3 separate regions of the Homo sapiens genome follow, and all the other regions are reported to be linked to region 1. Evidence: microRNA targets listed by miRTarBase, many of them from high-throughput screens and not tested one by one. Region 1 holds a microRNA gene; each other region holds the end of a gene's coding sequence.
What was found. The annotated mature microRNA hsa-miR-6852-3p reads UGUCCUCUGUUCCUCAG and lies in region 1 at 1,524-1,540, opposite strand. An mRNA with a match to its seed (bases 2 to 7 or 8) in the 3' UTR can be bound and repressed. Matches are read on the target gene's strand: a 7mer-m8 pairs with bases 2 to 8, a 7mer-A1 pairs with bases 2 to 7 and ends in A, and an 8mer does both.

Region 2: the mRNA of B3GNT6 is a reported target of hsa-miR-6852-3p. The part of its 3' UTR that is shown has no 7-base or 8-base seed match.
Region 3: the mRNA of GMPR is a reported target of hsa-miR-6852-3p. The part of its 3' UTR that is shown has no 7-base or 8-base seed match.

Annotation. Positions count from the first base shown.
Region 1 is chr9:35,709,161-35,712,502 of GRCh38, forward strand. It overlaps MIR6852 (microRNA 6852), which reads right to left and starts at 1,581; the gene lies at 1,516-1,581. TLN1 (talin 1) reads right to left here. Exons shown (of 57, transcript NM_006289.4): 28 at 2,845-2,964; 29 at 2,435-2,632; 30 at 2,095-2,234; 31 at 1,829-1,922; 32 at 1,637-1,726; 33 at 1,401-1,523. RefSeq lists enhancers at 1,621-2,820, 2,912-2,961.
Region 2 is chr11:77,040,274-77,043,615 of GRCh38, reverse strand. It overlaps B3GNT6 (UDP-GlcNAc:betaGal beta-1,3-N-acetylglucosaminyltransferase 6), which reads right to left. Exons shown (of 2, transcript NM_138706.5): 2 at 1,643-3,342. The coding sequence ends at 2,910. Among named protein-coding and RNA genes, the nearest start is that of ACER3-AS1, 6.3 kb to the right of the region's middle.
Region 3 is chr6:16,294,736-16,297,735 of GRCh38, reverse strand. It overlaps GMPR (guanosine monophosphate reductase), which reads right to left. Exons shown (of 9, transcript NM_006877.4): 9 at 2,187-2,730. The coding sequence ends at 2,550. Among named protein-coding and RNA genes, the nearest start is that of GMPR, 58 kb to the right of the region's middle.

The sequences.
Region 1 (3,342 bases):
GGCAGGCGCCTGTAGTCCCAGCTACTCGGGAGGCTGAGGTAGGAGAATCACTTGAACCCGGGAGGCGGAGGTTGCAGTGAGCCGAGATTATGCCTCTGCACTCCAGCCTGGCGACAGAGCGAGACTCCGTCTCAAAAAACAAACAAACAAAAAACCAAAAAAACAAAAAAACAAAATCAAACAAGCCATCTAGAGCAAGGCGCCTATTCTGACAGGGCACAGGGAGGTGGTGGAGATGGAGGGCTAGGATGGTAGGCTTTCAGGGAAAATAGTCTGAAGTGAACTCTTATGATGCCAGTTTGTTTTAAGGATTCATATACTAAAGCAAAATACTTTACAGCTAATAGGTAGTTTTATACTTGATAATGTGGGAAAAGGCAAAGTTAAGTGATAACTCAAGTAACTGGAAATTTTGTCACTAGTACTATTTTAAGAAAGTAGTGATTGGCCGGGCGCGGTGGCTCACGCCTGTAATCCCAGCACTTTGGGAGGTCGAGACGGGCGGATCACGAGGTCAGGAGATCGAGACCATCCTGGCTAACACGGTGAAACCCCGTCTCTACTAAAAATACAAAAATTAGCCGGGCATGGTGGCGCGCGCCTGTAGTCCCAGCTACACGGGAGGCTGAGGCAGGAGAATGGCGTGAACCCGGGAGGCGGAGCTTGCAGTGAGTCTAGATCGCGCCACTGCACTCCAGCCTGGGCGACAGAGCGAAACTCGGTCTCAAAAAAAAAAAAAAAAAAAAAAAAAAAAGAAAGTAGTGATTACAGGCCAGGCGCGGTGGCTCACGCCTGTAATTCCAGCACTTTGGGAGGCCGAGGCAGGTGGATCACGAGTCAGGATATCGAGACCATCCTGGCTAACATGGTGAAACCCTGTCTTTACTAAAAAAAAAAAAAAAAATACAAAAAATTAGCCGGGTGTGGTGGTGAGCGCCTGTAGTCCCAGCTACTTGGAAGGCTGAGGCAGGAGACTAGCGTGAACCCGGGAGGCGGAGCTTGCAGTGAGCCTAGATCACGCCATTGCACTTCAGCCTGGGCGACAGAGCGAAACGCTGTCTCAAAAAAAAAAAAAAAAAAAAAGAAAGTAGTAATAACATGAAAAAATAGTTTGTATAAGCTAATTAGTATATTTTGAGAAAGCCAGCTGGAAAAGGCCTCACGGTTGGGCAGTGTAATCCTAACCAAAGTACCAGGGTTCAGGAATTACAGAAATCAGAACTGCTGGTGTTCAGTAATTGCTGACAAGTGTCTCCACTTCAGGAGGAGGACAACCCAGATTCCATAGAGTTGGCTTTGCAAACATAAACTTCTTGATTTATCTACAGGTATGTCAGGCTGAGAGAAAATGGGGTAAAGAAAGTAGGGGCCATTCAAAGAACCCATCTCAGGAAAATAACCTGTGCAGCTGCCTCGGTGAAGCCACAAAGTGCCTTTGAGGCTGTGGAAATGGCATCTCCAAACTCTGGCAGGTTTCCGTTCTTGGCATTTTGGGAGATGCCAGTCATGGCCTCGCCCAGCACCTGAGGAACAGAGGACATCAGGGGAGTCAGAGCATGTCCTCAGAACCCCAGGGCAGCATCTGGTTAGCTCCATCCTACTGCCCTCTCTCCTCCGAGTTCCTGGCTGTGCTGACCTTTGAGTTCTCCATTACACTGTCCAGGCAACCAAAGTAGGACATGTCATTGATGGGCTGGACTGGGTTCTCCAGGAGTTCCCGGACCGTCTGTGTAGGGGGAGGGCAAAGTGAGATCCAAGACACCTCCCTCAGGCCCAAAACCAGAACACTTCCCTCAACCTCAATGCCATCAGCCTGCCATGTGTCTACCTCCAATTCCCGCAGGGCGTTATCACACTCCTTCTGGCCGGGTGCCTGCTGGGTGCACATAGTGATGAGCTGATTGATGCTGTCAGTTACTGCCCTGGGAGTGACAGAAAGTTGAGTGAAAAGGTGAATAGGTCATCATTCCTGGGTCCTATGTAAGTATTTATCTTTTGCCTATAACCATTCCTAAGCCAAGAAGCTCTCATGAACTGCCTGCTCCCCAGTCTCTCTCACACAGTCCAGGGCTGGGCTTCTCAGCAACTACTTACCTGGCAGCTGCAGCCAGCTGACTCTTGAGGTTAGGGGCAGCAGGGTCCGTGGACAGGGCCTTGGCAGCCAGAAGAAGTTTGCTTGAAGACATGGAGATGCCCTTCAAGTTGGACACAACTTGGGCTCGGTCCTCCTGGCTCTGTTGAAGGTGACAAGGTCAATGCATTGTCCTGTCCTTTCTTATCTGTCTCTAAAAGGGATCTTCTTTCCCAGACACTCAAGTAGTGCTAGAGACTGGGGAGGGAAGGGAGCCAGGAGCAAGTCAGGACTGGTCACTCAACTGCCTCCTATCTAACCCTTAGTGGGAACCATTCAACCAGACCCTCTGCCTCTTCATACCGGAGCCTGGCCTGCCATCTCCACACCAGCTTCCAGGAAGGTGCTGAAGTCCTGTCCAAATCGGCCTGAGGCTCGAGCCAGGTCCTGAGGGGTTCCCCGAGAGGCCTGCACCAGTTCTGTGGCTGCCTGATTCAGCCCAGCAGCAGCTTCATTCAACCGGCTCTGAGCTTCTTGAAATGTCCCAGTGCTAGGAGGAAGCTGCAAGGTGAGAGGGGAAGTCAGACAGAAGAGTGGGGAATGATGCAGGGAGAAGTCTGGTAAAGGAGGGCTGAAAAGGTGGGCACATAGCCTGGGAGTAATGAAAGGGGACAGATCTGGGAAGTCAGGGTCAAAGGACAACCGAGAGGGAGGAAGGAGAGGCCTGGCATTCTTTGACTCCTACGTTCCCCCACCCCCTACCGTCCTCCTACCGAGTCACTCAGGAGTCGCTTGCTGGCATCTCCAACTGCCCTCAGGGCATTATCCACATCGCGCTGGCCAGGTAGGCAGCTGACACAGCGGTTCAGAGCCTGGGTCACTGCTTTAGCCACCTGGGGTGAGAAAGGAGACAGGGTTGCCCAAGTGAAAAGAATTTGAGAGATCGCCTCCATTCACGCGACATGGGAGATGACTAGCTCTACTGCCTCTGAAAGTGAAAAAAGAAAGGGGGCGTTGTAGGTGAACAGGCTGAGGTTAGGGTTTCAAGTGACAGTAATTAAACTTCCCCAAACTTGGTGTTTAGCTCAGCCCATGACTGAATCCAACTGAGACACTTCTACAAGACCAAGAGGGCCGGGCACAGTGGCTCACGCCTGTAATCCCAGCACTATGGGAGGCCGAGGGGGGCAGATCACGAGGTCAAGAGATCGAGACCATCCTGGCCAACATGGTGAAGCCCTGTCTCTACTAAAACAAAATTCAAAAATTAG
Region 2 (3,342 bases), not on the chromosome of region 1:
CCTGCCTCAGCCTCCCGAGTAGCTGGGACTACAGGTGCCTGCCACCATGCCCGGTTAATTTTTTTGTATTTTTAGTAGAGACGGGGTTTCACTGTGTTAGCCAGGATGGTCTCTATCTCCTGACCTCGTGATCTGCCCGCCTCAGCCTCCCAAAGTGCTGGGATTACAGGCGTGAGTCACCACACCCGGCCCCCCGGAATTCTTACGTTGAAATCCTAGCCCTGAAGGTGACGTGGTGATGATGTGATGATGGCAGAACCCTCACCAATGGAATCTGGGCCGCTGTAAAAGAGGCCGTGGGAGCTTGCTTGCCCCTCCCACCATGCAGTGACACAGCAAGAAGGCAGTGAGGAATGGGCCCTCGCCAGACACCAAACCTGCTGGGACCTTGACCTTAGACTTCCCAGCCTCCAGAACTTTCAGAAATGTTTGTAAGACACCCAGTTTATGGTATTTTTGTTACAGCAGCCTGAACAGACTAAAACACTAGCAGGGCAAGGCTGCTGTAACAGTAGACAAACCCCAGAAGCTGAAAAATCATAAAAGTTTTTGTCTATATTGTTCTGTCCATAATTTTTTTTAAAAGCATAAAAGTTTATTTTGTCTTCCTCAGTAGTCTGAACTGAGTATTCCAGGTTGGTCCCCGGGCTGCTCTGCTCCGTGCAGGAACTCAGGAATCCTCGTTTCTCTGCCTTCCTCTAGGCCAGCGGTTCTCTGCTAGGGTGAATTTTCCCACCAGGGTATGTTTGGCAACGTCTGGAGATACTTTGGGTGTCATGACTTGGGCTGTGATACTGGTATCTAGTGAGTGGAGGACATGGATGCTGCTGAATGTTTTACAATGCACGGGACTGCCCCCCACAACAAAGAACCGTCCTGCCCCAAATGTCAGTAGTTGAGAAACTTCCACTTGGGCCTGAAGCATTGTCCTCACTTGCAAAGTCAGAGCTGGGTCCCAGGCCCATCCATGTTCCAGCGAATGGGAAGGAGGAAGAGAGCATAAGCAGGCCCAGGTGCCACAGTGATCCTCATCCACTCCCGTCCATCCATGAGGGCCTAGTCACAGGGCCACATCTAACTTCAGGGGACGGAGTGCTGGGAAATGGAGTCTAGGTGAGTGCCCAGGAGGAAGGGAACAGCCGACTCAGGTGGGCAGCTGGCAGCTTCCCCGACAGGCGTCCTAACTGGTGCAAGAGACATGCAGGATGGAGGTGGTTGGAGGACATTTCGGTAACTAGGTCAGAGCTTGTGCAAAATGCAGAGACAAGAGAGAGCCTGACAAAGCGCAGGCACTGCCACCTGGATGGAGGCTGACAGTGGGAGGGAGGGATCAGTGAGCAGCAGGCGGGTGGCAGGAGCCTGAAATGCAGGACTGAGGAGTCTAGTCTTCGTCCTGAAGGCAGGGAAGGACCTTTGGCCAGTCTCCTGACGTTCTGCCCCGGCTCTTTCCTCCCTGAAGGTGAGTCCCTCGTGTCCATCTTACATAGTTGGGACCTTGCTGACACACACTTCTGCCTGCCTTTAGGCCGTTTCCTTGATTTTCTATGTTGCCAAGATGACTGGCAGCTGCTGGAGGTCAGGACCACAGCCTGGTTCTCAGAGCCCCAGGCACCAAGTTCCCACCCACCCTTGCAAACTCTCCTTTTTTTTTTTTTTTTTGAGATGCAGTCTTGCTCTGTCGCCCAGGCTGGAGTGCAGTGGCACGATCTCGGCTCACTGCAACCTCCGCCTCCCAGGTTCAAGTGATTCTCCTGCCTCAGCCTCCCAAATAGCTGAGATTACAGGCACGAGCCACTATGGCCGGCTAATTTTTGTACTCCCAATAGAGACGGGGTTTCACCATATTGGCCAGGCTGGTCTCGAACTCTTGACCTCATGATCCGACCTCCTCAGCCTCCCAAAGTGCTGGGATTACAGGCGTGAGCCACCTCGCCCGGCCCCACAATCTTAACCACTGTCCACTTCGGTCTCAGATCCCCCACCTCCCGAACACAATTCTACACACCTGCCTCCACAGGCTCCCCAACACTGGCCTCCATGTTCCCACCAGCCTTTCTCCACTTCGGACTCCCCGGAACTCCCTGCTGGGTTGTCCAAGGCCCACTGAGCCTGAGGCCCAGACCCCGGCAAGGAGCCTGTCTCTGACCCGTGGGGGTGATTATTGGCGGGCAGGACCCAACTAGGCCATTAGCTTTGGTTGGGGTGAGTGTGGAGGGGACCACAGTGGTGTGCTGTCTGGGAATGCCACGGCCCTGGATTAGTCACTGTCTGACCGGGCCTCTGGTTTCCACTTTGCACGGTGAAGATTTCTACCTCACGGTGTACTGGGGTAGTGGTGGGAAGAAGGCCACCACATGCGCCTCAGCTGCGTGTTGGCTGACTTCTTGGGGGAGGGGGAAGCGGGATCCACCTGATACTGTCAGCCCAGCTCCAGCTCCACTCACTTGTAAACAGTGGAAATCACAACTGACATTTGTAGGCACATGGCAGGGGGCGCTGATCCTGGCTCCCACGCTCCCAGGTCTCCCTTGCTCCACTGCTCAAGAGGACCCGAGTGTGGGAGCGAGGGGCCCGGAATTCTTGCAGAGAGGGCGGTGGAGCTGGCTTTGCGAGGATGAAGAGATAGTCTAGCCGAGTGGTCCTCAGGCCTAGCTGCACATTCGCATCACTGGAGGAACTTAAAAAATACTTAACATGTCTGGGTCCACCCCAGACTAATCAAATCGAAACTTCGGGAGATGGAGCCAGGATGTAGGCATTTTCCACACCCCCCACCCCAGCTGATTTCAGTGCGCAGCTGGGGTTCAGGTGCACAGAGCTGGGCAGGACGTAAGGTACCCAGAGCGGGAAAGCTGCCTTCTCAGCATGGACATGGTTGGAGGCCCGGGGCTGAAGCCGCCCAACTGGCCTCAGGAGACCCGGTGTCCCCGGTCACAGCTGAGCGCGGGGCTGTGCAGCGCCTTCCACATGAGCAGCATCTCGTAGGGCGCGAAGCGGTGCACTAGCAGCAACTCGCGGTACATGCAGGGGTCGAAGGAGGACTGCTGTGCGCCAGGCAGCTGCACGCCGAAGGGTCGGATGCCCTCGTGGCCGCTGGGCGCCAGGCCGGCGCGCTCCAGACACATGCCCATGTAGGCGTCGTCGATGGGGAAGAGCGGGGTGTGGCGGGCGGCCGCGCGCAGGGCCCGGGCCGTGGGGCCGGACAGGAGGAAGCCGCCGCCGCTGCAGTACACCGGGTAAGCGGACCCGGGGAAGAGCTGCGGCGGCACGAAGTACTTGCTCCAGCTGTCGCGGATGGGCACGGAGCCCTCCATGAGCTGGCCGGAGAACAGGTGGCGGCCG
Region 3 (3,000 bases), not on the chromosome of region 1:
AGATGGAACGGCCAGAGTGGCCCAAGGCAAATGGCGTCGAGTTCACTGGCTGTCCTCCTCCTCCCCCAGCTCTGGCACAGGAAGCCCAGTGGGTCAGCAGCAAAGCTGCATGCTTCATCTCCAGGTCCTGTGGGACACCCGGTCCAAGGGACACTCTGGTGTGGGCTCCCCCAGCCCCACTCCTATCAGAGGCAGAGATGAACCTGCTAAGGCAAACGGTGACGGAGCCTTACAAGTTCTCTTTATGGGCCAGGCGCGGTGGCTCACACCTGTAATCCCAGCACTTTGGGAGGCTGAGGTGGGTGGATCACCCGAGCCCAGGAGTTTGAGACCAGCCTGGGTAACATGGCAAAAACCCATCTCTACTAAAAACATAAACATTAGCCAGACGTGGCGGGCACCTGTAATCCCGGCTACTCTGAAGGCTGAGGCACGAGAATCACTTGAACCTGGGAGGCGGAGGTTGCAGTGAGCCGAGATTGTGCCACTGCACTCTGCCTGGGTGACAGAGCAAGACTTGGTCTCAGGAAAAAAAAAAAAAAAAAAGACATTCTCTTTCTGAAGGCTCTGCTTCAAAATGGTCCTAACGAGTTTTTGATTTTGTAACTACTCAGTTACAAGCAGCTGGAAGACCACAGAGAGCAAGGCGGGGAGCCTGCAGCCAAGCCCCATGTCTTGCTCCACGTTAAATCGCCTCTTGGCCCTCCCGTCTCCAAAGTGCAGCCCTTGTGTTTCTACAGGTGCAAGAGTTATTCTTAATGGGCCGGGCACAGTGGCTCACACCTGTAATCCTAGCACTTTGGGGAGGTTGACGCAGGTGGATGGCTTGAGCCCTGGAGTTTGAGACCAGTCTGGGCAACATGGTGAGACCCTGTCTCTATAAAAAATACAAAAATTAGCTGGGCGTGGTAGCAGGTGTCTGTAGTCCCAGCTACTTGGGAGACTGAGGTCAGAGGATCACCTGAGCCCGGGAGGTCAAGGCTGTGGTGAGCTGTGATCCTGCCACTGCACTCCAGCCTGGGCAACAGAGACCCTGTCTCAAATTAAAAAAAAAAAAAAAAAAAAAAAAAAAAAACTCTTAATGGATTTAGTAGGGGAAAGTATTACAATGGAGACAATGCTGCTGGCTGGATCTCTAAACATAATCTTAAAGGACCAACAGTGGGCCTGTATTATCCCAGAGTGTGACAGCTCTGGTTGGACCCTTCTCATGCCATCGGTCACTGTGGACAATCAGGCCATTCATTCACCCTGGCACAGCAGCACCCTGTGGATCTTCTCTACTCCAGGGTCATTGCTTGCCTTTCCAAAGAAAACTGACTTGTGTATCTGCTCTTCAGCCTTATTAAAAAGCAAAGTAAAACAACCTGATCTGCATACGCTTTCCAGGCCTGGAACTCAATACTTCAAAGTTTAGCGGCCGGTCATCACTTCTTCTGCGTTCACTGTTTAAACAAGCATCCTGGTGGACTGCTGCAGGTCAGCTGCAGAGGCCAATTCTCCAAGACAATGTCATTGTTCCCAACCCGTTAACTGACCCTTATACAGTAGTGCCATGTGGTCCTTCCGAGAAAGGATTCACTGGCACACTGAGGGAATGGCTCTAACTCATGTCTCAAACCAATGCCTTTTAGGATGCCACTGATCAAAGCTTTGGCTCTTTTTCAGTGTGACTCCACCTGCTAATTTCTTGGGAGACAACCTTCCCATAAAACATCCTGTGGAATTTCAAATTAAGACAAGTTGGGACTGAGAAGGGGGAAAAAAAAGATGGAGGAAAACAAAACGAAATGAGAAGCCAGGACAGGGACAGCTTCCTAGAGGCAACAGCAAACTGGTAGCGACAGATGACTTGTCCCTGAAAAGCACATGTAATGAAACTCGGGGAAAACACATTGGCTCAACTTTGTGAGTATCAGCTGGGAAAACAATTCATGTTCATCTGTCCAGTTAATTGCTTTTGTTCTTTTGCAGCAACCAAAAGCTAGAGGTGAGGGATGCCAGTTACTTTGACTCCGGCCTGTCCACCCTTGGCCCCCGCACTGTCCTCCTCTCCTTGCCCCTCCTAAGGTGACTTGTCTGCTAATCGCCGGGAGAGGCTTGCCATCAGCCTGTCTAGGAAGGTAGCAAAACAAATCCCAAACCATTCAACTTGACTCCTGGAAATACAAACTCCAGCAACTCCATTAAGTCTTAAGATAATAGCATTATATTAAAGTGAAACCATCTTCTTTTAAAAAAGAAAGAAAAACAAAGAAAGGGAGAGAGAAAGAGAAAAAGAGAAAGGTGCAAGTGTTGGTTTGAACAATGAGGTTATGAGTTCTGGGCAGCAGGGCTCTGATGTTGGCCCAATCGGTGCCTTGCGTCTGGGCCCCGAGAAGGCAGGCGGGAGAGCCCCGAAGCCTCCAGGCAGCAGGAGACAGAAGAGAGGACACAGCATTCCACCATTCAGGAGCAGCCAGAAGCTCTGACGGAACAGACTTGGGGGGAGATGGGAAAAGCAGGTTTGGACGCTTCCACTCGAGCCAGACGCTGCTTTGTCCCCAGGGTTAGCTGAACACGGTGTTGTGCTGCTGGGTCACCCGGATGAATGTTGCCCTCCTGCTGAGCTCCTTGAGTTTGGCGGCCCCCACGTAGGTGCACGTGGACCTCAGTCCCCCGAGAATATCCAGGATAGTGTTTTCCACATCTCCTTTGTAAGGAACTTCCACAGTCTTACCCTCAGAGGCTCTGGAAGACGATAGAAGTTTTCTTTTTATCTAGTTTCCCGCCCCACCTTAAGAGCCCAATTAGAATTACTCCCAGCTCCAGCACTTTCTGTAGCCCCCAAGGCACTCAGAAAACCAGACCCCACCCTCTGACCCCATCCCCACATTTCTACCAAGTGCCAAGATGATCACCAGCATCTCAGATGAACACATTCCTCCCGCCCAAAGGGCACGGGCTCATTGCTGGCTGCCCTGCATGTTGCGGAGAGGAAAGTCCTGGTGAGCAGCGCTT